Regions from separate parts of the Homo sapiens genome. Here region 2 is linked to region 1. The links come from fine-mapping of genetic effects on gene expression. Tissue or cell type: whole blood. Region 1 holds a variant in brackets; the other region holds the start of a gene. All regions are shown on one strand. Distances are between the middles of the regions.

Region 1 (2,679 bases):
GGGGCTAAGTCTATTAGGAGGTGAGGCTCTAGGCCAGTGCCCAGGGTAACCCTTTTCAAAGCTGAAGAGAAATCAGAAGTTTTATGAAGCTGCAGGTCTGTAGATGGGACACGCAGGTGATCACCTCTGCCCTCGCCCCGACCTCGTGGCTTTACTTGGAGAACAAAGATGAGGAGGGTGAAGCGAGTGATCTCAGCTCCAAAAGCACAGGCTGTGTGTCTGGAGCCAGTGTGAGAGGTGGCACAGAGGTGCCAACGGCTTAGAGGGAAGGATGCCAAGGTCTTAGGGAGGCATGATTGTGGGCTTAGGACCCCTGAAAGAGGGCAGCAGGCCAAAGCAACCAGATGTCCATATTCCTACGCCTGCACCTGGCTGGGGAGGGAATGAACTAGCCAGCTGCCTGGGAAAGCCTGTCAGTGGAAAAGAGAAACCCCAAGGGCCTCTAACTCCGTGGCTGCTCCCTCCCTCTAGCAAATGTGGTTGAAATCATGAAAAGGGTTACGAGGCAGTTTAAGTGCTGCACCCCAAGATCTCCCTTTGCCCATGTTAACTATCTTACACATTCCTCCCCCCTCCCCCCATAGCACAACAAGCAATAGCAAACAGGATACAGTCTCACCACTGAAGTCAATTTAAATGGAACTATTGATAAAGTGAGTCAGCAGCTTGAAGGAGCCGGCATACAGTATATCCTATCTAGCCCACCCAAGGACACTGGCTCTGCAGGTGGGAGAAGTGAGGGGAGGGGAGGAGTGCCCAGCCCTGGGGGGATTGTCCTCATTTAAGATCACAAGCCAGCGTGCCTTTTCAATTTATCTGCCAGCACTGATCACCCTAAACCATGATCTTAGGCTGGCCCCAAGAGCCTGCCCCACAAGGGGGAGATCCCAGAGCCTTCCGTATAAGAAGGCCCATGGTGCTGAAGAGCAGGGCACAAGAACTTCAGGAAGAGGAACCGAGGTGCGTGAAGAAATGCAGCCGAAACTGTTGGCAGTAATGAGGGGGGCATATCTCTAACCACCACCAAATCTACCCCACATTTCCTTCTCCTTCTCAGATCCCTTCAACTTAGGAGAATTGCTGGGACTCAGCGAACGGCAGGGAGGCTCTTGGTGGAGAGTTCTGGGCCCAGAGACTT[C/T]CTTTCAGGTAAAGCTCTAGCTGCACACGAAGCTGCCAGCCCCAGGGGAGGCCCTGGATTTCTACTGCCAAGTCCCTCAGGGTTGCCTTTAACTGTACCCAAACCAGAAGTGGCAGAATTGGGCCTGAGGCTGCTGAGTTTCTTTAGGCAGCAATGTTTTGCAAAGGCGGCTTCCCTTTTCTCATGGCAGCAGATGGAGTTTGTGCAAGGTCAGCGGGCTGAGGTGCTCTGGTCAAGGCTTTGGGAACAGTGTCTCCTGACTTGTCAAGTCATCCTTCCTCAGGCAGGCAGCTTGGGCCTCTAGAGCAGATCCAGGACAGGCAATTCATCCCAATCCCTGCTGTGGTCGCAGGGCCCTTGGTGGGAGGCTGCGCTGCCCCTCCAGAGGGCGAGCTTGGAGAGGAACCCAGTCTGAGGGGTGGCTGAGGCTCACGGAGCTTCTGGGAGCTGCAGATCCCCCCAGCTGGCAGTGGCTTCCTTTTTCTTGTGATGCAGGAGTTGTAAGCCTCCTTTGGGACTGCCATGAGACTTCGGGCTATGACCAGAGAGAACCATCCTCGCGCCGCAAGCCAGACCAGCCACAAGACCTAGTCTGTGCCCTGACACAGGGAGCCCCAAGGGGAAGTAGGGAAGGGGACATCATCGCTTCAGTCCTAATCCTGTGCTTCAGGCCTTCGTCACAGCTGAACGGCCTCCTTAGCTGCTAGAAGCTGGTCTCTGTTGGGTCCCAGGTGCTGAGGAAAGCCTTTCAAAACTTGGGAGGCCCCAGCAGGGTGGCACCACACAGGCCACACGAGTCCCAGTGTGGGGGTGAGAGACACCTCGTGAGGGTGGGTTAGAAACCTCTTTACAAGCATTTCAAGATACATGCGTCCTTTTTTTTTTTTTTTTTTCTTTTCACTATCATAGTCACTCTGGTGAATCCAAGCATAAACAGACAAATCCAACTACAACTCAACAGGGTGCAGATGGGGAGGGCAGGGCAACATCTATGTATATGTTCAGCTGCTCCAGCAGAACAGACAGCATGGCTTCCAGCTGGGACTGGGGGAAAAGAACCATTTCCAAGGGGGTGTGTTCCCCTTTGTCGGGTGTGGAGGGCTGATACTATGCATGTGGAGCTGAGCAGCGGGCTGGGCTGTCTGGGAGGTTGGCAGCTACAAGCTAGGGTGCAAGTGGGGGACAGCGGGACTGTGGGCCTGCCCTGGGTGCCTTGCCCTTCCATCCTGGTGCCACCACTGACAACCAAGACACCCAGCCTGCTGCTGTGGGCTCAGCACAGGAAGGGGCCAGGCCTTCTCAGGGGAAAGGGCTCTCTCCATGTCAACAAGGCAGAAACACCTAGGGTCACAGCTGAGCAGTGCCCTGGCTCACATCTGTGACGGGAGGAGGAGACAGGGAACCGAATCAGATCATGAGATTCGTGGTGAGGGTCCCAGTTGGATGAGTGGAACTGAGAGTGAGAGGCTGGGGTCCCACTCTTGTGCCTGGACTTTGCCTTCCCTTAATTTCACCCTCAGTATGGAGTAGGTACCTCCTGC
Region 2 (2,679 bases), 540 kb after region 1:
GACCCCTGTCTCTACAAAATAAACAAATTTTTTTAAAAATGAAAAGATTGGCCGGGCGCGGTGGCTCACGCCTGTGATCCCAGCACTTTGGGAGGCCGAGGCGGGTGGATCACCAGGTCAGGAGATCGAGACCATCCTGGCTAACACGGTGAAACCCCATCTCTACTAAAAACATAAAAAAATTAGCCGGGCGTGGTGGCGGGCTCCTGTAGTCCCAGCTACTCGGGAGGCTGAGGCAGGAGAATGGCGTCAATCCAGGAGGCGGAGCTTGCAGTGAGCCGAGATCGCGCCATTGCACTCCAGCCTGGGCGACAGAGCCAGACTCCGTCGCAAAAAAAAAAAAAAAAAGAAAAAAGAAAAAATTAGCTGGGCGTGGTGGTGCACGCCTGTAGTCCCAGCTGCTTGGAGGCTGAGGTGGGAGAACCACTTAGTCCGTGAGGTCAAAGCTGTGGTGAGCCGTGATCGTGCCACAGCACTCCAGTCTGGGCGACAGAGTGAGACCCTGTCTCAAAAAAAAAGCAGAAAGGAAGAAAGAAATCCTCTACACGGGCTAGAAGAGAATAACCAGACCCCTAAGCTTCAAGCCAGGCGGTGCTAATGGGCGAGTTACACACGGGAGAGTGCCCAAGGGGACCTCAAGGCGTTCCCTTGGGATAAAGTGTGGTCAAAACAGCTATGTTTATCCTGAAAGCGCAAGGCGGAGGCTCCAATTTGGGCCCGGGCTCCGCCCCACGGGCTGCACTGCTGCCCTCGGAGAGGCAAAGATAGGGCAGGCGTTATTAGTCCCACTCACAAGTGGGAACTCTTCAGCTGAGGGAGGCGAAGTGACAGCCCCAATGTTGCACAGATGGTTCTGAGGCCAAACGAGGTCAGGAACCCAGAAGCCAGGATCTAGTTTGACGCAGACCTGCGGGAGGCGGGCGGTAACGGATGCGTTCTCCCTGACACCGGTGCCTTCGCCTCTCTGCGCCCTGCAGGCGCCCCCAGTTCCCCAGCCTCCCAGACCTCGCATCTGCCCCGGGGCTCAGCTCCCAGGGACTTCCGGGAGCAGCTGGCCCCGCCCCAAGGCTCCTTCGGGCTGCGCGATTGGCACCGCGGGCCGGGGCAGGGCCGGAGCGCCGAGCCAACGTGATGGCGTCAGGGGCCGGGGCGCCGCTTCCTGTTGTCAGTGGCCGAGAGACCGCATCGTCGGCTCGGAGGCTGAGGGGCTGCCGCGGCCGGGAGCGCCCCTCGCCTCGCTCCTCGCTCCGCTTGGTGAGTTAGGGGGTCAAGATGCGAGGAGGGCGGCGGAGTGGTGGGAGGGCCGAGGCGCGAACGGGCGGTGGGCCTCCCGCTCCCTCCGCGATTCCCAGCCCCTGGTTACCCTGAGACTGCCCGGCTTCAGGGCCCTCAGCCCTGTCCAGCCCGCGCCCGCTCCTCTCCGACCCAGCCTTCCCCCTGCACCGCCGCTGTGGCCCCGTCCCCTCCGTCTGTCCAGCCCCCAGCCCGCGCCCGCATCCCCTCACCAGCGGTCTTGCTTAAATGCAGCTTCACTCGTGACCCCACTTTACCCCAGTTCCAACACCGATCTCGGCCACGTCCCTTCGCCCCGCCCTGACACACCTCATCCTCTCTCCCCACCCCTCTGGTAATCCCGATGCTCCGCGCTTACCTCCCCGAGACCCACCATTCAGGTTTCCCCTTTTCTGGCTCAGCTTTCTTATCCCAGTCACCCCCATCCCCCGTCTAGCTCCCCAAGATCTGCTCATCCCAAACATTCTACCTCCGCCCTCTCATCTAAGACCCACCCCCAAAGTAGGTGCCCTGTTGAGCTCACCGCTTTCTTCTGGATAACTCCGATCTCAGCCTTATTCCAAGTCTTAACTGTGTCTTCTCGTCCTTAGTCTCCTAGCCACTGTATACCTTCCTTTGCGTCTCCTGCCGTACTGAGGACAGCCCATCCCTAAGTCTTTGCCAAACTGTCCCGAACTCTTGCTGCCTCCTTTCCTACCACCCTCACCCAATCTTGTTAAAAATGACATCTCCATGTCCTTTCACCCCCGCTGACCCACCGCAACTCTTCACCCCAACTCTGCGTCCATTGCTTCCCTCGACCCAACTCCCATTCAACCTGAGAACTTAGTGCAGAGTCGCCTGCCAACTCCACCAGCTGCCCCTCAACAGCCAAATGTAGGTGCTCACTCAGACCCGCAGTTACAGACTGAGCAGCATGATTGGCGGGTGCAGGGGCTCAGGTGGTAAATAAGGGTGGAGGAGCAGTGGGCTCTCCCCAACTCTTGGGTGGGGCCGGGGTTTTTCCTGGCATCTGGTCTCCTGCACCTGTCCTCAGGGATTGTGTTTTTGGCATTCATATTAAATGACTTGTGCTGGCTGCTGGAATGGTAGGTATCATTCAAATATCTGGAAGGTGAGAGACGGCCACTCACTCAGCTCACTTAGCACAGAATGATGGAAGCTGTCACTTCCTTCTGGTTGGTGTTCTCGCCCTGGAGAGCTTCTGGGAAGTTCTGTGTGGTGTTGGCTGTGGTCACAGAATATTGTTCGTGTTCCTTTTCTTGGCACTTGTAAGGGCCTCTCCCTGCCAGAGCTGATGGCAGATCAGTCCTGATGCTGAATTCAGGGGATATGATGGGTGCCAGAGGCAACGTTACCTGTTGTGAAGAGTATAGGTGAGTAGGT

The links. PIP is the estimated chance that this variant, and not a neighbour inherited with it, causes the effect.
Region 2: it holds the start of PLEKHM1, and the variant in region 1 is fine-mapped to the expression of PLEKHM1 in whole blood (TOPMed, PIP 0.98).

Annotation. Positions count from the first base shown.
Region 1 is chr17:46,025,441-46,028,119 of GRCh38, reverse strand. It overlaps MAPT (microtubule associated protein tau), which reads right to left. Exons shown (of 13, transcript NM_001377265.1): 13 at 1-2,679. Among named protein-coding and RNA genes, the nearest start is that of STH, 28 kb to the right of the region's middle. The variant C/T (reference allele first, on the strand shown) is at 1,139.
Region 2 is chr17:45,489,227-45,491,905 of GRCh38, reverse strand. PLEKHM1 (pleckstrin homology and RUN domain containing M1) reads left to right here and starts at 1,185. Exons shown (of 12, transcript NM_014798.3): 1 at 1,185-1,254. LOC105369225 (a long non-coding RNA gene) reads right to left here and starts at 1,034. Exons shown (of 5, transcript XR_002958152.2): 1 at 1-1,034.